Linked DNA regions of Homo sapiens: all the other regions are linked to region 2. The links come from fine-mapping of genetic effects on gene expression. A gene starts in region 2. Each other region holds a variant in brackets. All regions are shown on one strand. Distances are from middle to middle.

Region 1 (4,196 bases), 56 kb before region 2:
CCGGGGGAGATGGGGCCCCAGGGCCCCCCCGGAGAACCAGGTAGAGTGCTGAGCTGGGGCCTGGAGCCCCTCGGGGCTGCCCGGGCAAGGCCAGGGCCTGCTGGCATTGCGTCCTCTTGTGTTCTCTTTGTGGATCGCCGGCCGTGCCAGGCGTGGTCAGTTTCCAGCCATAACGCTTCTTTGGTGGCTTGCAGGTTTCCGTGGGGCTCCAGGGAAAGCTGGGCCCCAAGGAAGAGGTGGTGTGTCTGCTGTTCCCGGCTTCCGGGGAGATGAAGGACCCATAGGCCACCAGGGGCCGATTGGCCAAGAAGGTGAGTGACAGTGGGGAAGGACCTTCCCAGGTCCTAGTGCTCTGGATCTGACTCACAGACTGTGGTCTGCAGGAAGGGGACACACGAGAGCCCAGAAAAGCCAGAAATGAGGCGCTGCCCCACCCTCCTGCTCCTAATCTGGGCGTAGCAGCTACACTCCTATGCCCAGCAGAACACCTGGCCCCGAGTCCTGGGACAGCCTCCCTCCTTTTCCTGGGACACCTGCGGTGCTGTGGAGTGGGCGGCAGGGATCAGTAGACTTCAAGGGTCAGGATTAGACAAGGAGCCAAAAGAAACCGACTATTAAAATGTACAAGAGCCGCACTGCGAAGCCCTGTCTTACTTTTTTTTCTTTTTTGGACAGAGTCTCGCTCTGTCTCACCCAGGCTGGAGTGCAGTGGCGCAATCTCAGCTCACTGCAGCTTCTGCCTCCCGGGTTCAAGCGATTCTCCTGTCTTAGCCTCCCAAGTAGTTGGGACTACAGGCATGTGCCCCCATACCCAGCTAACTTTTTTGTATTTGTAGTAGAGACGGGGTTTCACCATGTTGGCCAGGCTGGTCTCGAACTCCTGACCTCGAGCGATCCGCCAGCCTTGGCCTCCCAAAGTGCTGGGATTACAGGTGTAAGTCACCGTGCCTGGTCGTCTTATTTTTTAAAATTATTTGCACATATACAGAATGAAATAGGCCAGGAATAACAGCTATTCATGAAAAAAAAAAACCTCAAAATTTGTCTTAATCAACCTGAGCTCAGTTTGAGCCAATGGTCTGAGCATTAAAATTAAAATTAAAATTAAACATAGGGGCCGGGCGCGGTGGCTCACGCCTGTAATCCCAGCACTTTGGGAGGCTGAGGTGGGCGGATCACAAGGGCAGGAGATCGAGACCATCCTGGCTAACACGGTGAAACCCCGTCTCTACTAAAAATACAAAAAATTAGCCGGGCGTGGTGGCGGGCGCCAGTAGTCCCAGCTACTCGGGAGGCTGAGGCAGGAGAATGGCCTCAACCCAGGAGGTGGAGGTTGCAATGAGCCAAGATCGCGCCACTGCACTCCAGCCTGGGGGACAGAGCGAGACTCCGTCTCAAAAAAAAAAAAGAAAATTAAACATGGGTAGTACTATTGGTGTCCAAGTCAAAGGAAATAGCAGTCCCCTGCCCCTGGGGACAGATCCGCAGCCGGCAAATTATGGGTAGTGTGGGGTGCACCTGAAAACAAATGCCAGCAAATGGGAGCCCGCCCAGGGTAGGAGACAAGCTAGGGATGGTGGAGGGGAAGTGTCCTGGGAGAAAGGGCCATGACCATGGGTGTCCCTTGGAAGGGGAGGGGACAATGGGAGAAAGGGTCACTGGGGATAGCTGAGAAATATTCACAGAGCTGCTGTGCTGGAGGCAGATGAGCCACCCCCGTGTGCTCCTCGGGTAGGAGTTACAGGAGGCTGCACGCAGAAAGAACATTCTAACCCAGGCTGTGGTCAAGTGCGCAGTCAGCATGGCCTGCGATGAGCCATGTCTCCTGGAAGTGTCCAGCGGAGGGAGGCCACTGCTGGGGGTGGGGGCTGGCCTGCGATACTCCTCCGGACACTTCCAACGCCAGGCACGTTGGGCACATCCTGAGGGGCACATGCCTACCTATGGCTGACTGAGTCTTTTATGGAAAGGACCCCTCCTCTGTGCCCAGTGCCCTCACTGCCATCATTTCATGCTACTGAGAACAAAGTGTGGATCAAATCCTTCCCAAGAGTCTCCTGATCTCAACAGACTGAGCCCCAAGATCTGGGGAAGGAGAGCGATGGTTCTAGGCGCACCTGGAAACTGCCCTGCACTCCTGGGTCCCGAGGTTTCTGTGGGGCGGCTGTCAAGGGGGCTGCTCTCTCTCTCTTTCTCAGGCTGCAGGTGCACTAGGCC[G/A]TCCACTCTCTCTCTCTCTCAGGCTGCAGGTGCACCAGGCCGTCCACTCACTCTCTCTCTCGGGCTGCAGGTACACCAGGCCGTCCACTCTCTCTCTCTCTCTCTCTCTCGGGCTGCAGGTGCACCAGGCCGTCCACTCTCTCTCTCTCTCTCAGGCTGTAGGTGCACCAGGCCGTCCACTCTCTCTCTTTCTCGGGCTGCAGGTGCACCAGGCCGTCCACTCTCTCTCTTTCTCGGGCTGCAGGTGCACCAGGCCGTCCAGGGAGCCCGGGCCTGCCGGGTATGCCAGGCCGCAGCGTCAGCATCGGCTACCTCCTGGTGAAGCACAGCCAGACGGACCAGGAGCCCATGTGCCCAGTGGGCATGAACAAACTCTGGAGTGGATACAGCCTGCTGTACTTCGAGGGCCAGGAGAAGGCGCACAACCAGGACCTGGGTAGGTACCTCCCACCCGGCCCCCGTTGCCTGCTCAGGGCTGGCCCGGAAGTGGCCAAGATCAAAGGGCCACAGCGAGACTCCCAAACCCTCCACGGCTGGTAAGTTCCCCTGACGGAAGGGTCCATCTACATTCCTCGAGTGCAGAAAGATTAAAACGGCCTTTGAAGCAGAAGCCTTACAAAGCCCTTAAACCTCAGGACCTTAACACAGGGACCTGCCTTTTAACCTGGTATTGACTTCCGCAGGCTCCCATGTGACCCGTCTGACCCCCGACCCCTCTCCAGTGGAGACCACCAATTACTTCACCTCCTTCTTGTTTTTGACCCAAGTTCTGTAGACTTGGAGTCAGGCAGGGGCCATGAGGGGCTGGGGTTCATGTAAGACTCTCCCATACAGCCCCCCGAGGAAAATGGACCCATGGACACGTGTGCATGCTCTTATTTAAGGAAGCCTTTGAAAGGCATTAACGCGACTTCGAATACAGAAAATGCAATACACACAAATTACAAGTGGAGGTAGCTTAGTCTGAGGTCCTCTTTGAGGGGGTGACGGGAAGGGTCTCTGGGATACTGGCTGTGTTCTGCCTCCTCGGTGCAGGTTACATCAGGCGTTCTGCCCCCGGGAAGCATGTTGCTGGCTCATGGTGCCTTCACATTCCTGCCTGTGCGCCCCGCCTCCACAATGAGTTTCTAAAGAACAACGGGGCAAAGGCCGCCAAGGATAAGGGCCAAAAATAGATCTAGGAACAGGGCCAAGGAGGCAGCCTAGCACCGGGCATGTTTGCTAAAGGTGGCTGCACTTCTGGGTCTGAGCTTTTCAGCAATCCATGTGAAGAGGGAAACCTGCTTAGCTGCAGCATTCGTTGTGGCCAGGAGATAAAGGCTATCTTAGTCTCCAGAAGCAATAAAGCTACATGGAAGGGAGAAGGGCCAGGACTCCTTCTGGGGTGGCTCCTTGGGGTCAAAGAGCGACCCCTTGGAGGCCATCAGAGTTTTCTTGGGGCCAGTGCTGTTAAGACCCCACTAAGGTAAGGCTCACCCAAAATGCTATTCCATGAAGACGCCACTCCCTGGTGATCCAACTTGGCCCAGTATGTGTGAGAACTTGTAGAAGAACAGAGCTGTTCCAAAATGCCAGTGGAGTCTGATCAAAAAGAGAAAAAGAAAGAAATTGGGAAGCCTTAGCCTGGCCCTCCAGTAGGTGGCTAAACTCCACCAGGTGCCCTGGGGCGAGTCCGTGACACACAGCCTCCTGGGCCTGGCTGGGGCTGGCAGGTGCGTCTTCTAGCCACACTGCACTGTGATCTCATGACCCCTCCTTCCACAGGGCTGGCGGGCTCCTGCCTGGCGCGGTTCAGCACCATGCCCTTCCTGTACTGCAACCCTGGTGATGTCTGCTACTATGCCAGCCGGAACGACAAGTCCTACTGGCTCTCTACCACTGCGCCGCTGCCCATGATGCCCGTGGCCGAGGACGAGATCAAGCCCTACATCAGCCGCTGTTCTGTGTGTGAGGCCCCGGCCATCGCCATCGCGGTCCAC
Region 2 (4,219 bases):
CAAATTGGGTTCGTGAATTGGGTTCGATTTGACTTCTAGAGCGTGTGTTCCATCGTTACCAAATGCTCAGTGTGAGGGAGTCAGCTCAGTAAACCTCATCCTGCAGCCTGAGGCAGAAGACAGAGTTGGAGCAAAGATCAGGGAAATGCACCTCTTTACCTGGGGGACATTGTTTTCACAAGATGATTGCCAATAAATTAGTCACGATGTTAACTGGGATAATAATAAAAAAGCATCAAAGAAGGCAAAAGGGAGGGGGAGAACTGGAAGTACCTCTGTGAGCTTCGTTAATTCAGTTTTAAAGAGAGAATTCATTATCATCTTGTTTATTCAGCATACTGATACACCCAAGATGGCAATTTAAGAATTCTGGACGGGGCCTTTGGGTATATGACTTTTTAAGATGCTAACATAAAAGAAGTCAGAACTTTCAGAGTTTCAGGCTTCTAAAAACTCACACTCATTGAAAATGTGTCACACTATTTCCAGTTTCTTCATTCACTTACAATATCTTATTCTTTTGTAAGGAGAAGGAAATATATTCCATTGCAATGCTACAATCACCAGTGTTATTTTCCAAAGTTAAACAGAAAGCCTGAATTGAGATCCTCTAAGTTGTACTTTTGAAAAGTCACAAATACTACACAATAAAAATAACTCATTACCTATCTTAAAAATGCTTCCACCGGAAGTCACTCCAACCCAAACCCATATGACGTATCTGAGCCAAGATCAAGCAGAAGATTAACTGTAAAAGGCAGATATGCTCCGGGCTAAGAGGTCCGGAGGCTCCAGTTTTATTTCCTCTCTCCTGACTAAACCCAACAGGGGGGAACACTCTGTGCCTCATTTTACTTTTTCTTAGAAAGGGGCTAATAACACCAGCTCTGCTCACCCCTCAAGTGAATCTCAAAGGATATCATGTTCCTACGGGTACGTGAAAACTGAAAATACCTAACAAAGCAGCCACAGAGGAGCGTCTCTGGTTCCCAGGGCGGCAGAGCAGGAACGCGGGGCTCGGGAGCAAAGGCAGCTTAGGTACACAAATGACCAGCGGGTTCTCTGCAACTTGGGTTGTCCCTGAGGTCACTGAGTGGCTGAGAGGCAGCGCTCAGCCCAACCAGCAAGGGAGGACGAGTGGGAAACCCCGAGAAGGAGGCATTTGCTGTCCGAGGCCGGGACCCTGTGCGCGGCCGGGTGCCCTGCTGGAAGCCCCGCGCCCCCCGTCCCCGGCGGAGCCCCAGGGCGGTGTGGCTCATGCGGCGCCGGCCTCACCTGCGGTGTCCCAGATGGAGATGTTGTAGGAGCGCCACTGCTTCAGGTAGAAGGCGCCGCCCACCGTGCTGACCGTGTCCGGGAAGCGCCGCTCCATATACCGCTGCAGCAGCGACGTCTTCCCCACGTTCATGTCCCCCAGGAGCACGATCTTGCTGTCGGGCTTCCTCATCTTCCCGTAAGAACCCCCAGCGCCCCCGCGCCCTCTCCCCGAGGCTGGCCGGCTCGTGCGCCCTGGGCGCAGCTGGAGGAGCGGACCCCGGACTCGCCGGGACCCGGATTCTCGTGAACGCTCCGGGACCTTCGCCTCCGGACGCCCGGGAGCTCAAGAGAGGAAGCGCGTGTGCGCGCCCGGGAAGGAGCTGGGTGCAGAGCACGGAGCCCACGTCGGGGGCCCGGACCGCGGCGGCCTCGCCTCGCCCCGCCCCCGCCCCCGCCCCCGGGCCCTTTCACCGCCGCGGCCCCGCCCTATCCTCCTCCGCCCACCGCCCCCGTCCCGCCCCTGCTGGACCTCGCCGTTTCGCAAGCATCCGAGTTCTCCAGCCGAGGCTCGGGACTGCTGCAGGGTGGAAAATGAAAGTTCTGAGAGCACCTTCCGCCCCTCCGCTTCTGCACAGCCGGGGCTGCGGTGCGAGGAGCTTGGCCGCGGGGCCCGAACGAGGCGAAGGGGCCGGGGCCCTTGGGGAACCCCCTTCTCTCTTCCACTCTCCCTTAGGTAAAACCCGTGTTCCTCTCACGCTCGACCCAGCGCCTTTCCAGCTGCGGTCGATTTGCTTCTCCGCGTGTAAGTACAGCCACCCTCAAGGTCATTGAAAAAGTTTGCTTTAAATGAGCGTCTGCGGAACTCGTCCTGAGGCTCTCACTGTTACAGATTAGAGATGGGGGCGCTTTCTAGTGGAGGATTTTGCTTTTGCTCTTCTACTTTTGCAAGAAGCTTTTTGTCCTGAAAAGTGGACAGTCATCTCCATTTATAGCTTGGAATGAAAATTTGACTATGGAAGTTGCAGTCGCTACTTGAGAAATATTTCCTCCTTCTTTTTTTTTTTTTTTTTTTATTTTTGACACGGAGTTTTGCTGTTGTTGCCCAAGCTGGAGAGCAGTGCGCGATCTCGGCTCACTGCAACCTCCGCCTTCCGGTTTCAAGCGATTCTCCTGCCTCAGCCTCCCGAGTAGGCGGGATTACAGGTATGTGCCACCATGCCCGGCTAATTTTTGTATTTTTAGTAGACACGGGGTTTCACCATGTTGGCCAGGCTGGTCTCGAACTCCTGACCTCGTGATCCACCCGCTTCGGCCTCCCAGGTCCTCCTTCCGTTTTAAAGGATAAACCTTGAAATGCTTTTAAAATATGCAGCGTGTAGAATTTGGTTAGTTGGTTGGTTGGGGTTTTTTAGAGAAAATGAGAGGTAGAATGGACTCTAAGTTAAACCCTGGGGGACAGTGTCACTCTGGCCGCTGGCCTGGCTGGGAAAGGCGATGAGACCCTGAGCAGGTTAAAACCCGTGTCCTGAAGGTGTCCTGTAAAGGGAAATAGGCCCGTTGCCTCCTTCGTAGGTGCCCTGAGACTCCGACAAGGCAGGAATGCCAAGGTATTTCGTACCTGCTCAGCCCTGGCATGTCAGGTTGCTGAGACCGAGCAGTGTGGGGCTGAGGTGGAAGCGGACCTTCTGGGGCGTGGAAAGCGCACCAGGAGACCCCGGCTCCTTCTCAGCCAGCACTGCCTCATCCTCAGAACAAATTTAAGTCAATTCAGCATTTATTCAATGCCTGTTGCATGCAAGTGACAACCTAAATAACAGAGAGGATCTCTAAAAGAAACAGATATTTATTTTGCAATAGAGCTTTGCAGTAGAAATATGCATGCCATGGTAAACTTGTGCATATTCAGAGAGGCAAGGAAAGCAAAGGCTTTAAAAAAAATGAGGCGGATTGCACAATTGTTTGAAAATAATTATCTGTGGCTACAAAGATCCATAACGAAGGCGATGCCAGTTCAAAGTAGGACAGCCAGTGGCTGGGCCATGTCCTTGCAGGACTAGTTTTTTGTGGGAGATTGCAGTGGCCTTTGTGCAAGGTTGCGGTTTTTCCAGAGAGTCCTTTTTGTTATCAGGCATGCACGCGCAAGAACCCTCTCTTCATGGCCTTCCCCGGCTCTGTTTGTCAGGGTTTTCTTAACATTAGCGGCTCCATTTCGATTCTGACAATTTTCACACAAGCTACAGTGCCTGGCCTGGGACGACACAAACATGAGTCAGGTTTGGTGCCTGTTGGCCAGGCGCAGTGGCACACACCTGTAATCCCACCACTCTGAGAGGCCGAGGCAGATGGATCCTTTGAGCCCAGGAGTTCAAGATTAGCCTGGCAACATAGGGAGACCCCCGTCTCTATGAAAATTACAGAAAAAATTTGCCATGCATGGTGGTGTGCACCTGTAGTCCTAGTCCAAAGTTGCTTTGACTATTCTGGAACATTTACACTTCCATATGAATTCTGGAATCAATGTATCTAACCTCAGGAAACACATTAATGACATATATAGTTAAATTTAGGAAGAGTGGATATCTTTATAATATTAAAATGTCCCATTTATGAACATGGTATACCTCTCCATTTATTCAGCGGGTGTTCAAGGCTCACCTAGAATTTTTACACTTCTTTCTACTTTTTTACCATCAGGAAGTTTAATCACTTCCTGGAGCATGCTTTTTGATTCTCCAAATTTTACCCCCTGTCTGCTTCTCTCACCTGAGCTCTTTGTCCATTTCTTCATCCACCTACTAAGCCTTTCTACATGGATGTCTCAATATGGCAACCCACCACATCGTTCATCTGCCCTTCTGTAAATGCAGAGTCATTCATTCTTTCACCTTCTTTATAACCATATCCAATTCATCACCAAGCCCAATGGATTTTCCCTTCTAAATAAATCCCTCTAACATCTTCT
Region 3 (4,219 bases), 41 kb before region 2:
CCACTGACACCCTGACCCAGGAGGCACCTTCTCGGGCCTTGGGTCCACATATCCTCCAGCAAGGTGCCCTCCAGATCCGATACCTGAGGGCTGGGCCAGTGGCTTCAAGGCAAACACAAAGTGAAGGGGAGGGACACAGAGCTTCATAACCACGCAAGGACGCTTGCTCTGAAGGCGTCAGCTCTCCCTGAAGGAGGCAGCCTGGACCACAAGGGAGGACTGGGCCCAAGAGCTTCCAGAGCAGGCACAGAGGAGGCTGAGTGCAGGCGGCACATGTATGTGCAGGGTCTCTGCTGTGCGTGCAGGGTCTTGGCTATGCATGCAGGGTCTCGGCTGTGCACACGTGCAGGGTCTCGGCTGTGCGTGCGTGCAGGGTCTCAGCTGTGCGTGCATGCAGGGTCTCAGCTGTGTGAGCAGGGTCTCAGCTGTGCGTGTGTGCAGGGTCTCGACTGTGTATGCAGGGTCTCAGCTGTGTGAGCAGGGTCTCAGCTGTGCATGTGTGCAGGGTCTCTGCTGTGCGTGCAGGGTCTCTGCTGTGCGTGCAGGGTCTTGGCTATGCATGCAGGGTCTCGGCTGTGCGCACGTGCAGGGTCTCAGCTGTGCGTGCATGCAGGGTCTCAGCTGTGTGAGCAAGGTCTCAGCTGTGCGTGTGTGCAGGGTCTCAGCTGTGTGAGCAGGGTCTCAGCTGTGCGTCCACCCACCACACCCATCCTCTCTGTCCTGTTTCGACAATGAGGCTCGAAAGATCCAGCTCTGTGAAGTGGGAGGATGGAAGACCCCTGCACACTGTGGAGAAGAGTCTGTGCTTCTAATAAGGGCATGTAAGAGGACGAGGGCACCGGCCACTCTGCCTGGCCACAGAAGGGAAGATACGACCTGGACTCCACCAACCAGGGCTGGGAGGATCTGTGCCTTTGAAATCCTCCAAACACCTGGAGGCCACACCACGGCACTCCCACCAGGGTCTCTGGGGCCCGGGTCCCACTCTTCTTCCTTCTTCAGAGGTTTGTGGTCATTGCTCAGGAGGGACTCAGCCTGGTTAGAGTCTCCCAGGAGCACGGAGTGAAGGCCGAGCTCAGAGCCATTGCCCCTTCTCTCTGGAAGACAGGCACCATCTCCATGTCTCATGGGGTCTGTCTCATGGGCCTTGAGCAGCAGCTCACCTCTGCCGGAGGGATCCATGTGCTGGGAGCACCCGTGTGCTATGGGGATCCGTGTGCTAGGGGGACCCGTGTGCTGGAGGGACCCGTATACTAGGGAGATCTGTGTGCTGGGGGAGGGGGAACCCGTGTGCTGGTGGTATCCGTGTGCTGGGGGGATCCGTGTGCTGGGGGGGAGCCGTGTGCTGGAGGGACCTGTGTGCTGGAGGGACCTACGTGCTGGGGGGATCCATGTACTGGGGAGACCCGTGTGCTGGGGAGATCCGTGTGCTGGGGAGGGAAGCCGTGTGCCGGGGAGGGAACCCGTGTGCTGGGGAGAACCTGTGTGCTGGGGGGACCTATGTGCTGGGGGGATCCATGTGCTGGTGGTATCCATGTACTGGGGGAATCCACGTGCTGGGGAGAGAACCCGTGTGCTGGGGAGGGAACCCGTGTGCTGGGGAGAACCTGGGTGCTGGGGGGACCCATGTGCTGGCGGAACCCGTGTGCTGGGGAGGGAACCCGTGTGCTGGGGAGATCCGTGTGCTGGTGGGGGAGCCCGTGTGCTGGGGGTATCCATGTGCTGGGGGGGGCCCATGTACTGGGGGGCACCCGTGTGCTGGGGTGATCTATGTGCTGGGAACATTCATGTGAGGTTGTTTTCCTGGCACAGCAGGGCTGTTTAAACCAGGAAGTTGGGTCCAGAAATGGCAACGTCATACTCTTTAAGAAACTAGGCCTGGGAGCCTGGGGAAGGGGACATTCTGACTGACAGCACCCAGATTAC[C/G]ACATACCCAACCCCAGGACTCCCTGACACCACTGCCAGGCACGAGGCTTTAAGGGCACTAGGAAATACCTGGTTATGAGGTGTCATTGAGGAAAGGGTTCTCATCTGCATGGGGACATGGACAGCTGGAAAGTGCAGAAGGGAGCTCCAAGACCACACACAGCCATGAACCCTGGACCGTCACTTGCTCATCTCCTCCCTGGAGTGGCCGCTTTGTACAAAGGAAAGACGGATGCTCGAGGTCACGAGCTCAAACCCACACCCAGTGGGGAAATCTGCGCCAACAGCTGAGTTGCCCAACCGAGGGATTTCAAGCTTTCCAAGAACTGACGTGGTTTCTGGAAGGAAACAGAGGCCACATGAGATGAGGGTGGGGGAGTAGGACCCAAGACCAGGCTCCCCAGCGAGGAGCCAGGCTGGTATCCAAGGTCCACTTGGAATGCAGCCCAGGACACAGGGTGCCAGGGGGCCTGTGGCGGCACTGTCATTGAAACTGTCCCAATAGCTCAGCTCCAGGAAGGGCCGTGGAGAGTGCTCAGTGAGATGTGCTGAATTAATGAGCCCCTCATGCCCTTACAAAAGCACTTGTAAGGGCAGCTGGAAGTTGCTAGCATAGGAGAGACTGCAGCGCCGACTGCCCAGAGGAACTCATTTAAAAGGAGCCCACAGGGATGCTTATTTTTAGGACAACACATATAGGATGAAATGCTTAAACAGAGTTGATGGAGAATGTGCCACCCATGGGCACCATCCCCGGAGCACGCGGCCACTCGAGGAAACAAGCTGTTGGGTGCCCGGAGCAGATGGGAAATCGAATCCAAGACTGTTCAGGAAGAACGGGCCTCAGGCATTCATACAGCCCTCCCTGCCTTCAAGCACCAACTGCAAAAACAGTGCCATATGATACTTTCTCTCCCTTCACAGCCTTCAAAGAAAGACTCTGGCCAGGGCCAGAGCTCATGCTTATGATCCCCGCACTTTGGGAGGCTGAGGCAGGAGGATTGCGTGAGCCCAGGAGTTCCAGACCAGCCTGGGAAACACAGCAAGACCTCATCTCTACAAAAAATAAAAATAAAAAATTAGCTAGGCATACTGACACACCCCTGTAGTCCCAGCTACTCGGGTGACTGAGGTGGGTGGATCACTTGTGTTCAGGAGTTCGAGGCTGCAGTGAGTGAGCTGAGATTGTGCTACTGCACTCCAGCCTGGGCAACAGAGTGAGACTCTGTCTCAAAAAAAAAAAAAAAAAAGATTCCAAGGTCTCTTTGATTAGCCTATTTCCTAGATGGGTCACTAGCAAAGATACACATTATAGAAAATAAATATAACTTCTGTCCCTACAGTGGTATATTCAACCAAGTCAATAAAAAGTCACGAGTCAGGCTGATTTGCGTTCACTTCTCAATGGGCTGCTGTTGCGAAACTGAAGTTTTAAACTCCGAAACCACATCTCAGGGGAGCTGAGGACCTGCAATCGCAGGGGTTGCCTCAGTGCTTCCTCCTGGGGTTCAAGCTCCCTTCCTTGCCTGAAAGCACTCACTCCACAGGAGCGGAGAAGTTAGGCCTGCAGCAGCCCAGAAACCGGAGAGCACAGGCCTTCAGCAAATTATGAACAGCTCCCCAGAAAACAGAGCACCCTGTAATCCCAGCATGTTGGGAGGCTGAGTAGGGAGGATTGCTTGAGTTCAAGGGTTTGAGACCAGCCTGGGCAACATGGCAAAACCCCAACTCTACCAAAAAAAAAAAAATTATTGGGGCATGGTGGCACATGCCTGTAATCCCAGCATGTTGGGAGGCTGAGTCGGGAGGATTGCTTGAACCCGGAGGTACAGTCTGCAGTGAGCTAAGATCACGCCACTGCACTCCAACCTGGTGACAGAGCAAGACCCTATCACAAAAAAAAAAAAAAAAAAGAAAGAAAACAGCACTTATGAAACCCACTGCCCAGTGCCATCTGCCCCACATTGCCTCCCAACAAACAGCCCCGACCCCAGCCTGCTTTCGTTCAGTCACATTTCTGGGAAAACAAATCTGCTGTCTCCTGGCACCTCTGTCTGACATCTTCCAATAAAGCAGCCACCCCACGGCCAGCAGCAGCAGACCCGAAGGGGGTTTCTGACTCAGAGACCTGGGTGCTCAGATGCCCCAGACTTCAGCAGAACCAGAGCTTTAAGCTTTGCTACTATTATTGGAATTCAAGTCATCAAGAAAACTAGACAGATGGGCCAATCTAAATATTCTGCAATTGGTAAGGATTTCACAGAGCTTCCGCACAAAGAGAGACGTATCTCAA
Region 4 (4,219 bases), 76 kb before region 2:
TCCGGGGCATCCCCAGCCTGAACTAGCACAGTTTCCCGCCCGGCCCGCAGCTCTGGGCCCCTCCCCTCCTGCAATTTCTCAGCTCCTCAGAACCCCCCGGAGACCTCCCTTCCATGCTTCTCCTCCCTGTGAAGGTGCCTACAGGAGGGCACGGAGCTGGCGCCTGCCTCACGGGCCTTCCTGCTTGTGACCGAGGTCCATCATGGTCTCATCAGAGCACACACAACAAAATGACCTTCTCACAAAGCATCCTATGGGAGTCACACTGGCTTTGACCGCTCCCTCTGCATCTGCTGGCAGGCACGTCCCCCTACTGTGGTGCTGTGTGCTCAGTGACACCAGCCCCAGGCCCAGGACCCTGGAGCCACCCCCAACTCCAACTACTCCGATGGACACAGGAGAGGCTTCTCCGGCGCCCTTGGTCTCTCTCCAAGGCTTCCCTGCTTGGGGGAGACGTGCAGCCCTATGGCTCAGGGACCAGGCCTTCACCTGTGTTCTCCTGCGTGGTCTGGAGCCCCCAGAAAATGACAGCACTCTATTCCCTTCCAGGCAGCCGAGGGGACCCTGGGCCCCCAGGACCACCTCCTGTCATCCTGCCAGGAATGAAAGACATTAAAGGAGAGAAAGGAGATGAAGGGCCTATGGGGCTGAAAGGATACCTGGGCGCAAAAGGTGAGGCTTCTGACCTGCAGCCAGGGGCCCCTAGTCCCTGCCGCCCCAGCCCGCACCAGCTCGTGCCCTTCTCCGTCCCCAGAGACGCCCGTGCCCTCCACCTGGCTTTCTTCGTGCTTTTCATCTCTGGGCGCCCTGTGTGTCCATAGCTGGCGCAGGGTTGTTCTCTGATGCCTGAGTAACCTCGGTTTCCCATCTTAAGATTTGCAGCACTGGCCGGGCGCGGTGGCTCACGCCTGTAATCCCAGCACTTTGGGAGGCCGAGGCGGGTGGATCACAAGGTGAGGAGATCAAGACCATCCTGGCTAACACGGTGAAACCCCGTCTCTACTAAAAATACAAAAAAATTAGCCGGCATGGTGGTGGGCGCCTGTAGTCCCAACTACTTAGGAGGCTGAGGCAGGAGAATGGCGTGAACCGGGGAGGCAGAGCTTGTAGTGAGCCGAGATTGCGCCACTGCACTCCAGCCTGGGCGACAGAGCGAGACTCCGTCTCAAAAAAAAAAAAAAAAAAAAAAAAGATTCACAGCACGTAGGACAGCAAAATGCATCCAGGCTGCAAAATTGAAAACTGGAGGGCGGGTGCTGCGTCCTCACCAGAGTGTTACACACCAGGGTCTTCCTGCAGGTATCCAAGGAATGCCAGGCATCCCAGGGCTGTCAGGAATCCCTGGGCTGCCTGGGAGGCCCGGCCACATCAAAGGAGTCAAGGGAGACATCGGAGTCCCCGGCATCCCCGGTTTGCCAGGATTCCCTGGGGTGGCTGGCCCCCCTGGAATTACGGGATTCCCAGGATTCATAGGAAGCCGGGTGAGTGGGCGTCTTTTACTCCCCTTGTTCTGTGAGCTCCTCTCCCCTTTGCTTGTGAATGGACATGCTTTGGTCTGGAATTTGCTAGGGTGAGAGTGTCAGTGGCAGGTTCAGGGCAGCCTCAGGCTTGGTGGGGTCCACACAGCCCTGGAAGGAGCTGCTGCACTTGGACACCATGCAGATGTGATGTGAGTCCAACCGGCTGCCGTGGCCCTTCTGTGGGCTTGTGCTGGGTGAAGCATGTTGTCTGCATTTTTCATGGTGGCCTTGAGAGAACAAAACTTGAATTTTCAGGGATCAGAGCTCTAAAATTGAGCACATCAGTGACACCAGGCCTGAGAGCCCATGGCCGAATCACAGCGTAGACCTGGGCCCGGCAGCCTGGCTTCCCATCCGGGCCACCGTTCACTCAGCCTTTGTTCAGCGGATGTCTGTTGAGCACTTGACATGGGCCAGACACGCTGTTGTGATGGTAACAATGGTGAGCCCTGACCCTGGGCAGGGCTCTCTTCTCCACACCTTCTCCCTCAGCTGCAGAATGAAGGTAGTAGCTACCTTGCAGTTTTCTTGAGTGCTGTATAGACAGTGTGTATAACATAGCACAGCGTGGCTCCCCATAGATTCCGTTTCCTAGAATTCCATTTCTAGCCTCGTTCATATGAAGATAGTGTATTCTCACAGTCCCTAGCACACGGCTGGCCTTCCCAGGGGGATGGGCACATTTGGAGCAGATCAGAAGGTCTGGGCCCCTTGATGTGTTTCAGTCGCGTCCGTGTGAAAAGACCACCAAACAGGCTTTGTGTGAGCAATCAAGCTGTTAATTTCACCTGGGTGCAGGCAGGCTGAGTCTGAAAAGAGAGTCAGCGAAGGGAGATAGGGGTGGGGCCGTTTTATAGGATTTGGGTAGGTAAAGGAAAAAGGGGGGTTGTTCTCTGGCGGGCAGGAGTGGGGGTCACAAGGTGCTCAGTAGGGGAGCTTTTGAGCCAGGCTGAGCCAGGAGAAGGAATTTCACAAGATAATGTCATCAGTTAAGGCAGGAACAGGCCATTTTCACTTCTTTTGTGGTGGAATGTCATCAGTTAAGGCAGAAACCGGCCATCTGGATGTGTACGTGCAGGTCACAGGGGATATGATTGCTTAGCTTGGGCTCAGAG[G/C]CCTGACAGTGTGAACCCTTAGTAGCAGGCCAGGGCCTGCCTGTGTGTCTGTCTGGCCCACCTTGGTGTACAGAATTCTTCAGGGGTCTTCCTCCCCTCACTCCCAAAATCTGCAGCTGAGAGTATCTTCTAGCCAGTCTGTGTGTGCTATTCAGGTCACTTTAAAAAAGAAAGATGCCAGCCAGGTGCAGTGGCTCTTGCCTATAATCCCAGCACTTTGGGAGGCCAAGGCAGGCAGATCACTTGTGGTCAGGAGATCGAGACTAGCCTGGCCAACAGGGTGAAACCCCGTCTCTACCAAAAATATAAAAAATTAACCGGGTTTGGTGCTGCGCACTCATAATCCCAGCTACTGGGGAGGCCGAGGCGGAAGAATCGCTGGAACCCAGGAGGCGGAGGTTGCAGTGAGCCGAGATTGCGCCGTTGCACTCCAGCTTGGGTGACAAAGCAAGACTCCATCTCAAAAAAAAGACAAGAAAAAAGAAAGATGCCTGTTTCTGCCAAAGACACCTACAACATCCAAAGGACCTTTATTCATAACAGCTCGAAACTAGGAAACAGCCCAAATGTCCATCAACAGGGAAAAGAATAAATGAACGTGGTATATTCTAACCAGACACAGCATTATCTGTGCATTTTATCTCCATACACAGCAATAAATGAGAATTCTTGGTAAAATCCAACAACCTAACTTCATTTCCAAACTTTATGTTGAACAAAATAAACCAGAAACAGAAAAGTACACGATTCAGTTTCATCGATGTGAAGTTCAAGAACTGACAAGGCTGTTAGATGGGGTATCGGGAGCACAGCTGCTTTAGGTGGGGTTGTCATAGAGTGCTGACAGTGTTCTGTGTCTTTCAGTGACACACGAGTTCAGATGCATTGAGCTGTGCGTTTAAGATGAGTGGACATTACTGTATTTAAGTTTTGCTTCAGAAAAGTAAGCTTTGAGAAAGAAAAATAGAGCATTACCTAAACAAAGGTGCAGCCTGTGGATACCCTCCCCCTTCCTCCCACAAAGGAGCTTTTGTTTTGTTTTGTTTTGTTTTTTGAGACAGAGTCTCACTCTGTCACCCAGGCTGGAGTGCAATGGCATGATCTTAGCTCACTGCAACCACTGCCTCCTGGTTCAAGCGATTCCCCTGCCACAGCCTCCCAAGTAGCTGGGATTACAGGCGCACGCCACCACGCCCAGCTAATTTTGTATTTTTAGTAGAGACAGGGTTTCACCATGTTGGCCAGGCTGGTCTTGAACTCCTGACCTCAGGCAGTCCACCCACCTCGGCCTCCCAAAGTGCTGGGATTCTAGGCCTGAGCCACCACCCCCGGCCTAGCTATATTAATACTGCAGCGACTCATGTTAGGCCATGCTTGTACATTGATGCTGTAGTACTAAAGTCCCAGTGGCACCCAGGTAGACCAGAACTCTCATGCTCCCTCTGGGGAGGAAGCCACTCTGGAGGGGAAAACTAGGGCTTCCAGGAAGCCACCGAGCAACTCAGGCATCTTCTCAATTTCCTTACCAGCCACCTGTGTCTTTCTGGAGAAGTCTCCCTCTGTGCACAGATGGAGGCGCACAGC
Region 5 (4,219 bases), 22 kb before region 2:
GAAATAGGCCAGGCACGGTGGCTCATGCCTGTAATCCCAGTACTTTGGGAGGCAGAGGAGGGAGGATTGCTTGAGCTCAGGAGTCCAAGACCAGCCTGGGCAACATGGTGAGACTTTGTCTCTCCAAAAAATACAAAAATTAGCAGGGTGTGGTGGTGCATCCCTGTGGTCCCAGCTACTGGGTAGGTTGGGGTGGGAGGATCACCTGAGCCCAGGAGGCAGAGGTTGTAGTGAGCTATGATCACACCACTGCACTCCAGCCTGGGTGAGATCTTCTCTCAAAAAAAAAAAAAAAAAAAAAGAAAGAAAAGAAAAGAAAAGAAAAAGAAATAAAGAAAGGCTGAGCAAACCCAAAAGTCAAGCTATGCATCAAGAGCAAAATGCCTGAATCCACTCCCAGAAAACCAGCTCCCTGGGGACGGCTGTTTCCTCCCAGCAAGGCAGCAGGGGCGAGACCGTGAAAGAACCATCCTGTGTTCTCAGCTGTGCACTTCCCTCACGTTCTTACTCTGAGACCAAGCTTCCTCCACTGTCCCTGGCCAGGCAAGAGCCCCACAATGGTCACCTGTCACCATCCAGGAAACATCTCATGAAAACTCTGCTCAATTGTACCAAGAAAATACTCTGAGCCAACATCCAGCAGCCGGATATGACTGTGGGAGTTGACAACAACCCTACCCCTCTAATAGTAATGCTTTTCTGCCAGAAGAAAGAACTAAAACCTCAAGACAAATTAATCAATCACAGGAAGAAAGGAGGCGATTAGGTGACCTTATTTTTTAAATAAGCTAATAATTCAAATTCAGTAATCCAATGTAGTTGCTTGCATTTATAGTTGCTTTAATTTTGTTCTGAATAGTCTATGACAATTAAAGGGCATTCAAAAACATAGCTGTGCTTTATGACATAAAGGAGGATGATTACTTTTCTAGTCTAGCAAGTCCAAGGGTTTATATTGGTAATAAAATAAAAATCAGTATTGCAGTCCTGCTTAATGACTGTCTACATCCAGAGACTCAACTACCAGGACTGCTTGGCAAATACTGACCGACAGCCATCCAAACCCCTGCCCGCGAAATGAAGCTTTTTTCCTTTTTGAAAAAAAGAGTCCAAACCTAAAACTATTTCCAGTTAACGGAACTGCAACATATGAGGCAGAGGAGAATTATTCCAGGAAAATGGATTTTTCACCTTTAAATATACATCAATGCATTTTTTGTTTTTTGTTTTTGTTTTTGGGTTTTTTGTTTTTTTTTTTTGAGATGGAGTCTCACTCTTGTTGCCCAGGCTGGAGTGCAATGGTGCAATCTCGGCTCACTGCAACCTCCGCTTCCCGGGCTCAAGCGATTCTCTTGCCTCTGCCTCCCAAGTAACCGGGATTACAGGCACCCGCCACCACGCCTGGCTAATTTTTGTATTTTTAGTAGAGACGGGGTATCACCATGTTGGCCAGGCTGGTCTCGAACTCCTGACCTCAGGTGATCCACCCGCCTCAGCCTCCCAAGGTGCTGGGATTACAGGCATGAGCCACCGCGCCCGGCCACATCAATGCATTTTTACCCAAATCTGCATGTGTCATTTCTGTTGTTTCTTCTTGATGATCTGAAGGATAAACTAAAAATAAAGCAAGTGTCATACGCCACATGAACCACTCACATCACTAACTGCAGGTAGAGTAGTTCCACCTGTGGCCCACTACGTGGCTTCTGGAAAAATGATGAATGTAAAGCAGGAAGAAGCTTAGTTCTCAAGTCACATCACTCTTCAGACATGAATGTACTAAAAATAGTTCAATGACAAAACCAAATTACTCAGAGATGTTCTTTAACACTCCGATATTAA[C/G]AGAAACAGGCAAGTCCCAAAAAATACACGTATATAACAGACTTAGCTTTAAAACACACACTGGCACATGCCAGCATATGTAATCCAATCTCCTTTACCTTCAAGAGATACTCTGTTGTCCTGTAATAACGAATGTTTAGAATGAGATTATCAAATAAAAGTGCAGGTATTTGCTAATGTCTCCAAATAAAGTAAAACTAAAATTATTTCAGCTCTTTTCAAAGCACATTTTAACCTGTTTCAAAGTCAAGACTGAATTATAAATATCATATTAAGAAAACTTTTTAAATCTAAACAGGGAGGCCGGGCGCAGTGGCTCATGCCTGTAATCCCAGCACTTTGGGAGGCCGAGGCAGGTGGATCACCTGAGGTCAGGAGTTCGAGACCAGCCTGGCCAGCATGGTGAAACCCTGTCTCTACTAAAAATACAAAATTAGCCAGGCGGAGTGGTGGGTGCCTCTAATCCCAGCTACTCGGGAGGCTGAGGCAGGAGAATCTCTTGAACCCAGGAGGCGGAGGTTGCAGTGAGCTGCGATCGCGCCATTGCACTCCAGCCTGGGCAACGAGAGTGAAACTCCGTCTCAAAAAAAAAAAAAAAGTTAAAATAGTAAATTTTGTTATGTATATTATACCACAATAAAAAACCTCCACATTATATATGGAATATATACGTATCTCTCTCACGCAAAATAGTGTCTACAAAGAAGGCGAGGAGCTGGAAGAGCATGCTCTCCACTGCCCCGACCCTCACGGCTGGTCTCTGCTGGGCTGCAGCAAGCCCCGCGCAGCTGCCCATGCCCCTGGAATGGGAGTTACCTGGCTGTTGGGTTAAAGTACAGAATCTGGCTCAGGAGGCCTGGCTGGGTCCTGGGTTCTGCTGCTGCCAGCCCGAGGACCTTGCCGAGGAGGAGACGGCCACGCTTCAGCCTCTCATCAACCCAAGGTGAGAGCCGACCACCCCTCACTCTAAGTAAAACCTGACAGCTGATCTTTTCACACCTCACCACTCTCCTGCCTTCCTCTGATACTCTCCACCTGGTCACGGTCACGGCGCAGCAACAGATTCCTCAAGCAGTGAAAGCTGACCCCCAGGCCTCAGGAACATCACTCCTGCCTGGGTCTGTGGCACAGGGTAACAGGCCAGAGTTAATCAGATTTGGAATTAGTTAGGTTTAGAATGTGCTTTTGCAACTGCTGTAGAAAAGTGCCTGGCTAAGTAAACAATAGGCCACCAGCTTTAGCACATGGGAACGAAGTGTCTTCAAACAATCCAGAAATTGTTATCAGCCCAGGCACAATAGCAATACAACTGCCACATGAAAGCTCACCTCGTTCTTATCTTCTCATTAACACAAGATTCGCTAGAAGATTTCCAGTGACAATGTCAATTTGGAAAGTATTTAAAACTTCCTCCATTCCTTCTGACTTCTCATTTTTCAGGAAAAGCAGCCAAGTTAGCAGGGAACTGCCTGCCCTAATCTTGGTATTAGTGGAATTCTCTGGGCCAGAGCCCTTCGCCTGCCTGGGGCTCAGCTTCCTCAGTGTCCCTGCACCAACTGGATCTGATCCCTTTAACCAAATCAGTGTTCCTTCCAGGGACTTCCCTAAGGGCTAGCTGACTGCGAGTTTACTTCAAGTGCCAGGCGGAGTGTCCAGCCACACACACACACACACACACACACTCTCACATACATGCACGTACATGCCATGCACACATACACATACTCACAGTTGCATTTCTTTCTCCCCACTGTGTCCACATTTCACACATCTGGAATCAGAGACCCCAGATGCTCACACACGGAGACAGTAACCAGTGGCCACCATCAGCAGGAACGGGGTGCAAACAGCCTGGGGAAGGAACTGCCAAATAATAAGGGTGTTTGTTGGTTTTGTTTTTGTTTTGTTTTGTTTTAATTTTATTATTATTATACTTTAAGTTTTAGGGTACATGTGCACAACATGCAGGATGACGAGTTTTGTTTTGTTTTTAATCAGAACGCTTGCTGTATTTTATTCTCAGCTTTACTGGGGTATAAATGACAAGCAAAATTTGTAAATATTTCAGATGTACAACATGATATTTTGATGTATCATGAAATGATTACCCTATTAAGCTAATTAACACATCTATCACTGCACATAGCTACCATGGGTGTGCAGACAGAACATTGAAACTCCACCCTCTCAGCCAATTTCAAGCCTATCACATGGTACTGGTTAACTACAGTCACCTGCCTGGGGCTCTACATTAGACCTCCAGAACTTATTCAGCCTGCAGAACTGAACCTTCGTAGCCTTTGATTAAAAACTCCCCAATTCCCTCTCCCCACCCACCTGCCAGCTCCTTGTAACCACCATTCCACTCTGCTTCAGT
Region 6 (4,144 bases), 93 kb before region 2:
GATTGCTTGGGCTCATCTTTTCTCCTTTCTGTCCCCAGGTTGCATAGGAGGGCCCAAGGGATTGCCAGGCCTGCCAGGACCCCCAGGCCCCACAGGTAATGCACGGAGGGAACCTGGAGTGCACCCAGCCTTCCTCCCACATCTTCACACTGCTGTGTCTCCCCCGCCCATCTTTCCTCTGGTCCTGCATCCCCCACCCCAGACATGGTCGTGTCCAGCATCTCAGCACAAACTGGTCTTGCGCCTACAGGGAGCCCACTGTCATTTGCCACTATAGAAAAAGGAGTCTGGTAGCTGACACTTAGTTGGGGCCAGGCTAGAAGAGAAAATTCAGCCATGGCTGCAGGGGAACGCCCCCAGGGGCAGAGATGGAAGCCTCGTGTTTAGGACTGGAAAGGGGTTGCACTTCTATGTATTTTCTTTTTATGCCTTTCCATCCCAGGATCTAGGGGAAGAACCTACAGGAGAGGATGCTTTCATTTGGGTTTTGATTAACAGGAAACGGGAATAAACAAGGCTAGAGTGTTTTGTCTCTAGCACCTGGGAGGACCTGGGCTTCTATCTGCTGGCCCAGGCCATCTCTCAGCCCATGTGAGAAAGAGTCTGGGTGCCCTTCACAGAGCCCATGCCTAAGGCCGCCTGCGTGTCCAGTGTTGGCGGTGCAGGCCTGGCTGGCCACCACTGCCGTCCCGCCTGCGCTGCGATTCTGCTGCCCTGCACTCCAGGGTCTCCGTGGGCCTGTGAGCATCGGGGAACACAGAGCCAGGGCTTCCACTCAAGCAGGAGGAGGGCTGGACCCTGAGAGGTGGCTCTATGCCTGTGTCCATCAGCCTGAGAAAAGCAAGTTCTCTGAGCAGTAGGAATTCCCCTTTGGATGTCTCTTCCACTCGGCCTGTGATGGGGCCGGGGAAGCATGTCACTTGGGTAACTCAGTGTCACAAGCACCAGACACAGCCAGAGCTGTTCTCACTTGTTTCTTCTGGAACTAAGTCCCCACCTATGCAAGATGAATAGTGCAGACAGGTGTTCTAGATGCTTCCTGCTGCACAAATCATGCCCTCACTGCTTCCCGTGATAAACTGTAGAGAGCGACACCAGTGTAGTATGAACAGCAATGAGAGTTAGGAAAGTGGACGGACACATTCTATGTGCCCTGCACCTTAAGGGGGTCTTCGGAGTGCACCGTGATCACAGGGCCTGGGGAGCACAGGACAAATGCAGAGGTATCATTTGCACTGTGAGCAGAGGTAAAGGCTCCTTGTGTTGTCTTCTGAGAACTGAGCTTGTATCTTCCGCGTTCCATTAGACCTGCCCCCGGTCTAATTCCATCCATGGATTTCAACACCGTCACTCATACAGCAACCCCCAAAATGGTGACAACTCTGCATGTCTCAGGTGGTCAGGGAGAACCAGAGGCCAGCACGCTCAGCACACACCCAGACTACAGCCGTGTGCCAAGGCCGGTCTCCGGGAAAGCTCCAGTGATGCGAGTGTGGGTTTCTGAGGCTCCGGGGCTCCCCCAGCCATACCCAGTTATTTCCATTTCATGCCCAGGCCCCCATTACTGGGAGCCCCTTGCTGGCCTCCCATCCGCTCCTCCCTCTCACTCCTGCTGTCCGCACTCCACTTTCTAAGAGTGAGGGTGGGTTTGATCACACACATCCCCTTCCCAAGAGGCGCCAGGAACGGGGATAAAAAAGTGTGGCAGATGGGTTTTGTGACATGGCTGAGGAACCTCAGCCCTTCAATTATCAGAAAACACTTCTGGAGCCCACACACTGGGCCAAGCAGGATTCAAGTGTTTGAAAAGAGTCACCTCATAGTCCTCGTGGCGTCCTCATGAGGCAGGCGATCCTTCTCCCCACTTTACAGGTGAGGAAACTGAGGCACAGAAAGTTGTCCACGGTCACACAGATAGAATGGTAGGGCCAAAATTTATAGCCAAGCATCTGACCCCACCTCCAAAGCCCTCATTTAGAGCACTGTAGAATCTAAATATTGGATATTATCATTCTTATGGTTCCAGTCCGTAAACAGGATTTTAAACACTGAAAATCATTCTGTAAGCCTGGAGGTGCTGTTTCAGGCTGATATT[C/A]CCCCCAGCCTCATCATTTCCCGGTTTCATGAGATCCACATTAAGTCAGATGCCAAGCATGACCATGCCCATTTATCCTCGTGGAGCCTGATGTGGTTTGTGGTTTATTTGGTTATTTAGGTGCCAAAGGCCTCCGAGGAATCCCAGGCTTCGCAGGAGCTGATGGAGGACCAGGGCCCAGGGGCTTGCCAGGAGACGCAGGTCGTGAAGGGTTCCCAGGACCCCCAGGTGAGTTGAGATCAGACCCCCATTCAGCCCCTGGGTTCCAGCGGGAACCTGTGTGTGATTCATAAGCATCCAGCTCTATTATCTTCCACTTTGTAGAAGCTGTTTTAACAAATACTTGACAACTTTTGCATTTGTCCTTGGGAGATTAGAAATTCTTGATTTTTCATAACTGATATTGTACTGGGTTTTTGCAGAAGCTATCTACAGATCTTGCAGGAAAAAGGAGACAGGTGTTTCGGAATGGCTGTCCTCCGCAACACCTGTCTCCCAGGTATGTCCTCAGTGTTAATAATGATTAATATTAAACATTCTAAGGGCAACACAAAGTTATCCTCTCCTGAAAGAACCCTTAAAGGCATAAATAGCCCTCTCACAATGTGGCTGCAAGAGCTTAAGGCATTAATCTGTATGTGGAGGAAAATGAGGTTTCCCTTAACCAGCTCTGGTGAGGAGTACCCACTTGCGTGTCAGCATGCTCTGGAATGCAGCCAGGCGTCTGCAGACATAGGTGTCTTGCAGTTGTGCCACAGGCGATGTGCATGAGTGTGATGGCACTGCCTTGATTGCAGGGGCATACACGTCTTTTTTTTTTTTTTTTTTTTTTTAATGAAATGGAATCTCGCTCTGTCACCCAGGCTGGAGTGCAGTGGCACAATCTCAGCTCACTGCAACCTCCGCCTTCTGGGTTCAAGCGACTCTCCTGCCTCAGCCTCCTGAGTAGCTGGGATTACAGGCATGTGCCACCACACCTGGCTGATTTTTGTATTTTCAGTAGAGACGGGGATTTCACCATGTTGGCCAGGCTGGTCTCAAACTCCTGACATTAGGTGATCTGCCCGCCTCAGCCTGCCAAAGTGCTGGGATGACAGGCGTGAGCCACTGTGCCAGGCCGCACACATCTTCAATAGTGTTTGTCTAATGAAACCATGGAAGCCATTGTGGACAACTTTCCACCCGAGATGAAACATCCTTCCACAGGGTCCTGGGCAGGTTCCTGCAGCCTCTGCTGGAGTCCCACTTGTCACCTAGAACCTGTGGCACATTGGAACCCTCTTGTTGCTAGAAAGTTCCTCCCTGGAATACAGCCTGCCTCCCAGGGAGTTCTCACCGGGCTGTTCCTGAGCCACACAGTTGACTTCCTCATAACCACACACCCTGAGAGAGGCGGCCACATCTCCCACAGACGTCTCATGAACAGGCAGAACTGACCCCGGGAACACATACTTTCTTTTAATGACATCGTTCCATGCCCTTGGAATTCTGAGCAACCTTCTAGGACCCCCACTTATCAGGATTCTTTTCCAACTGGGCTCTAGAAACTGAATAAAGCGCTCCCCATGTCTGGAATATCACACAGAACATCGGGACTGTTGCGCCCTTAGGTTGAACATCTTGCAAATGTTCCCAGTGAAGACTAATTGAACCCTGCCCCTCCCCTGACCTCCACTCAGATAGCTGATTTAAGCCTCAATGCAGAAGTGTCTGTCCGTCCCTGATAGATGGTATCTTTCGGAATTTTGTGTTGCAGCCCGTAGGGATTGTTCCAAACCCTGACCCTGTTTCCTTTCATATGATGCGTTTCTCCATGTTTTGCAAAATTGGGAAGCAGGCTTCCTGTGTCTGTATCAAGGCCCTGGTAAAAACAACTCTGCATTCGAATGAAGCAAAGGAAGTCTCCATGCCTCTGCCCCAGGGGTTGGTCTCTGTGGTTTTGTTGCCCTGCTGGAAGTGTCTAAATATTTAGAAGTGTAACATTGCCACTCTCATGATTTCATATATACTAAGTTTAAGCATTCATGATTTTGAGAGAAGGATAATAAT
Region 7 (4,219 bases), 34 kb before region 2:
TGCTGGTATGTCCTCCCAGCCTTGGCGTGCTTTTCATCGTTGGACACATCTGCCGCACTGGGGGGACGAGCTCTCAGGAAGCAGCTGTGGGAGAGGCAGCAGCATGCACCTTGGCCCCCACCTGCCTCTCGAGGACCGAGCAGGCTGTGCATGGCATGGGCCCTCCCTGCTGGCAGGAAGGGGCTTCACAGACGCTCCTGGTGATGCATTTGTTTCAATCACCAACAAGCAAACCCCAAGTGAGATCTTCCAACCACAAAGCACCTGCTCCCAACCACACCTGCCGGGGGCACGCTTTCGAAGAGGAATGAGACTGAGACCTGTGCTCAGACGCCATCCCAAGGAGCCTCTGCAGACAGGCCTGGAAGCTCCCATAGCACCTGCTGCAGGCCAGCTCATCCCCTCCTCCCTGGGGCATGTGTGGCCTCCCGGGCCATGCCCTTAGGCCAAGAGGAGGGAGAGCTGGGAACGACTGACAGCACTGGCCTCCACTCTCGAGCTCAGAACGCCAAGGTCAAGTGCCTCTGAACAAGGATGAGGCTGCTGGGGCACTGGCGCAGAGAGAGGTGGCACCCAGGGAGTGTCCAGGCCCCATTCCAATCCCTCGCCTGGGAGAAGTAAGCCTGGTTCTGATTTTTTAAAAAGAAGCTAACAATGTGGATTTTAATCTCCCAAGTTTTAAGCACTCAAAACTAATTCAAAATTTTCTAAAGATCACATTTAGGCAAACCAAAATGCAACAGTGGCCCATCATTGGCAGCTTCTAAATTATAAATGGTCCCATGTCACTCTGAGGGCAACTTCCCCTGAGTGTGTGGACAGTGTCGACCACTAGCAAGGGCTCTTAACCACTGGGGTCATAAACCAAATTCACAGGGTCCATGACCTTGAATGAGGGAGAAAACATCATCTTTGTTTTCACCACCCTCTACCTGAAATTTACCATTTCCTTTCACCACAAATATTGGCAGCAAACTGCAGAAATGGCAGTAAGGGGCACTCATCACCAACAGGGCCAGCAGGTGCTTCCATCCGCATGCCAGATGCCTCAGACACTCCAGCGTGATGCCCACGACCCTTCAGACCTGCCATGCCTTCATTCATTAATATGTGGACCATGAACCACATATCAATCATAATTTAAAAAGGCTCAAGACGACTGTACTTAAGGACAGCTGGTTACCTTTGTATGTGACTGCACGCACTTGGGCATAGTGTTCTGAGAAGGGGTCCTGGGCTTGTACCCCTCGGGGGCCGAGGGGTCTTGACACAAATGAAGTTAAGGCCCCTTGGTCTGTGGGGCTTTGGAGCATGGACTGAACGCATGACACCTGCACACATGTGGCTCTCTAAGGCAGACTGTCCTTTGCCAATAAACCACTGTTTAGAGCCAAATAGCCAAGAAGCACAACCAAATTTCATCCCATTCCCATCCCCAATCTTTCTGAAATGGCCACACATTCTGATGACGCCAAGTCCTCAAACCTTGCTGGGCGATGCTGCCTGGATTTTGAGGCAGGCTGGTCACCCCTTGGGCAACCCTGGAGAGAGGCGCCCACAGAGACACACACTCATGTCCTGTGAGAAGAGCCAGACAGACCTGTCTACTGACCACTGTGGTCTCCCAGGCCCCGAGCGTGGACTCCAGCTCCCCCTTCAGCAAAGCCGACAGTGTGCCCTTTGGGGATGTGGAGGGAAAGCGAGCTGGGAGCTGAGCCCAGACCAGCTC[C/T]GGTAGGAGTCAGAAGAATGTGCCCTGCTGCCAGTCTGAGGGTCAAAGTGCGAGAGCTACCCGGGTCACCTCCCTCTTCTGGGAAAAGCCAGCCTGGGAATGCTGTTGTTTGGGCGACAGAGCCACCCTGTTGGCAAGCAGCTTGTGCTCTGGAATTCAGCACCTGAAGGGCAACATTCCTCCCTTCCGCACGCCTACCAGGGGTCAGCTTCAGACTGAGAAGTCAATCCGTTTCCAGTCAAGCTGGACTGGACCCCAGCAGGCAGAAATCAGACAGTGTCCCCGGAATCCACAGTCATTCTCCCACTACAGAAGATGATGATCAAAAGCCTTTAAAACCCAATACAGCAGGCATTAGCTTCAAAAAGAACAGGCTAGGGCAGGAGGATTGCTTGAGGCCAGGAGTTGGAGCCCAGCTTGGGCAGCATAGCAAGGCTCCTATCTCTACAAATACACACACACACACACACACACACACACACACACACACACACATACACTTTAATTAGCCAGGCATGGTGACGCATGCCTGTAGTCCCAGCTACTCGGGAGGCTGAGGAGGGAAGACTGCTTGAGCCAAGGAGTTCGAGGCTGCAATAAGCTATGATCATGCCACTGCACTCCAGCCTGAGCAACAGTGAGACCCCATATCTAAAATAAATTTAAAATGGTAATAATAAAGGAAAGAAAAAGGCCGGAGACTCATGCCTGGAATCCCAGCACTTTGGGACGCCGGGGTGGGCGGATCACCTGAGTTCGGGAGTTCGAGACCAGCCTGACCAACGCAGAGAAAACCCATCTCTACTAAAAATACAAAATTAGCCAGGCATGGTGGCATGTGCCTATAATCCCAGCTACTTGGGAGGCTGAGGCAGGAGAACTGCTTGAACCTGGGAGGCGGAGGTTGCGGTGAGCTGAGATAGCGCCACTGCACTCCAGCCTGGGCAAGAGTGAAACTCCATCTCAAAAAAAAAAAAAACAAAAAACAGAAAAGAAAGAAAAATGCTTCTTCGTCATTACCACAGTACTAAGACTTTTGTTTCAGGGACACTAATCCCATAGATAACAGTCCAGGCATCATGAGGTTTTTACATGAGCTAAAAACGTCATCAGCTTCTACCCACCAGATTTCACAAGAGTGTGACTATGGGAATGCGGAGTCAGGGGCACTCCAGCTACCCTGGAAGAATGGTTTTCAAGTCTCTGTTACATAGTTCACTAGGGCCAAAGGGAGAACCGTGTTGATGCCTATGCCTAAAATAGTTTTCCATTCCAGATAAAAATGCCTGATTTGCCTTTAAAAAACTAAAAAAGGAAATAATAATATAAAAGGAAAGATCTTAGTAATGAAAGGAAACAGGAACTGAAGAATCACAAATGCTAGCCAGAAAAAAGTAAGAATTGTTGCTTGAACCCTATAATCTGTTATCTACCCATTAATGAATGCAAACCAATTAAATGCAGTTGCCCCAGCTAAAGAATTTACAAGCAAGCAGTTTTCATATTTGAAATTCTAAAATACTGCTTTGGAGATAATGTATAGCTTTTAGGATTGCTAATGGAAGAGTCAGGCTGCTCTCAATGAGCGCATTGTCCACACCAAGAAGGGCCAGTCCCGCAGGGAACAGAAGTTCTGAATTTAATCCTAATTGAATTTGAGTAGGGGCTCTGGTATGTAAGGCATGAGAGTGAACATAAGACAATGAAAATAAAATGGTGTCACTACAACTTGACCTTTTGCACTTGGCTTTGACAGATTCACAGTGTATTTGAATCCAAGGACCCTCACGCGTTTTCTGGAAGTTTGTGAATGTGCTCTGAGCCGGGCCGTCAGCCCCCTGCTGCCAACCCCATACACATGTCAGCCCCTGTATCTCTCAGAATATTGATTTCCTGTCTACAAGTATGGGCTTAAACTGAGTACTTCAAAGTCCCTCTCCCTGGAAACAGGATCAGGCATCTCTATCTCTATTGCCTTCTCCCCCAGACCGGAGTCCGTCAGTACCAATCGTGAAGCCAAAGCACTGAGAGTTCTGGTGGTTTACCTGGACTTTCCTGGAGAAATAAACAGCCTCAGGTCCAATTCTGGGGATGCCAGAGCCCCAGGCTGCCCCAGAAACAGGGCAAAAGAGAAAAATCACAAATTGGTTCAAATTCAACCAATGCAGCCAAGGGTCAGTGAGCTGCCAACCCTGGTCTGGTGAACGGAGCCAGGCTGCCGAGCCTGTGTGGCCACTACCAACACGGGCCTGACATCATCAGGGCTGGGGGCACGGGTTCAAGCCTGAGGAAGGAGCCCAGCCTTCCGCCAGACTCTCCCGCCTTTTTGCCTGGGCTGTCTCCAGGCCAAGCAGACGGGAGGATGGGTGAGTGACCGGAGCCTGGGGCTCTAGGTTCGACTTGTCCAGGAATTATTACTCGTCTATGTAGCAAATCCGTAAGTGATCTGCTCAGCTTTATGTCACCAACACATACAGACGAAGAGGTCAA

What was found.
Region 1: its variant is fine-mapped to the expression of RAB20 in whole blood (INTERVAL, PIP above 0.99).
Region 3: its variant is fine-mapped to the expression of RAB20 in whole blood (TOPMed, PIP above 0.99).
Region 4: its variant is fine-mapped to the expression of RAB20 in whole blood (TOPMed, PIP 0.92).
Region 5: its variant is fine-mapped to the expression of RAB20 in whole blood (TOPMed, PIP above 0.99).
Region 6: its variant is fine-mapped to the expression of RAB20 in monocytes after LPS (Fairfax 2014, PIP 0.95).
Region 7: its variant is fine-mapped to the expression of RAB20 in tibial nerve (GTEx, PIP above 0.99).

What each region holds. Positions count from the first base shown.
Region 1 is chr13:110,503,954-110,508,149 of GRCh38, forward strand. COL4A2 (collagen type IV alpha 2 chain) reads left to right here. Exons shown (of 48, transcript NM_001846.4): 44 at 1-40; 45 at 195-311; 46 at 2,462-2,653; 47 at 3,982-4,196. COL4A2-AS1 (COL4A2 antisense RNA 1) reads right to left here. Exons shown (of 3, transcript NR_046583.1): 1 at 4,146-4,196; 2 at 3,694-3,798. Among named protein-coding and RNA genes, the nearest start is that of COL4A2-AS1, 2.1 kb to the right of the region's middle. RefSeq lists enhancers at 3,647-4,148, 4,149-4,196. The variant G/A (reference allele first, on the strand shown) is at 2,218.
Region 2 is chr13:110,560,073-110,564,291 of GRCh38, forward strand. It overlaps RAB20 (RAB20, member RAS oncogene family), which reads right to left and starts at 1,650. Exons shown (of 2, transcript NM_017817.3): 1 at 1,276-1,650. The coding sequence starts at 1,447. RefSeq lists silencers at 1,210-1,269, 1,249-1,438, 1,330-1,779.
Region 3 is chr13:110,518,755-110,522,973 of GRCh38, forward strand. No RefSeq gene overlaps it. Among named protein-coding and RNA genes, the nearest start is that of COL4A2-AS1, 13 kb to the left of the region's middle. RefSeq lists an enhancer at 3,102-3,181. The variant C/G (reference allele first, on the strand shown) is at 1,927.
Region 4 is chr13:110,484,356-110,488,574 of GRCh38, forward strand. It overlaps COL4A2 (collagen type IV alpha 2 chain), which reads left to right. Exons shown (of 48, transcript NM_001846.4): 33 at 550-672; 34 at 1,300-1,481. Among named protein-coding and RNA genes, the nearest start is that of COL4A2-AS1, 22 kb to the right of the region's middle. RefSeq lists enhancers at 1-716, 717-1,554, 1,555-2,392, 2,393-3,229. The variant G/C (reference allele first, on the strand shown) is at 2,636.
Region 5 is chr13:110,538,318-110,542,536 of GRCh38, forward strand. The region is part of intron 1 of RAB20 (RAB20, member RAS oncogene family); the gene reads right to left. Among named protein-coding and RNA genes, the nearest start is that of RAB20, 21 kb to the right of the region's middle. RefSeq lists a silencer at 517-566. The variant C/G (reference allele first, on the strand shown) is at 1,843.
Region 6 is chr13:110,467,002-110,471,145 of GRCh38, forward strand. COL4A2 (collagen type IV alpha 2 chain) reads left to right here. Exons shown (of 48, transcript NM_001846.4): 27 at 39-95; 28 at 2,216-2,323. Among named protein-coding and RNA genes, the nearest start is that of COL4A2-AS2, 5.8 kb to the left of the region's middle. RefSeq lists a silencer at 2,730-2,935. The variant C/A (reference allele first, on the strand shown) is at 2,096.
Region 7 is chr13:110,525,720-110,529,938 of GRCh38, forward strand. The region is part of intron 1 of RAB20 (RAB20, member RAS oncogene family); the gene reads right to left. Among named protein-coding and RNA genes, the nearest start is that of COL4A2-AS1, 20 kb to the left of the region's middle. RefSeq lists enhancers at 1-42, 493-562 and a silencer at 1,743-2,037. The variant C/T (reference allele first, on the strand shown) is at 1,730.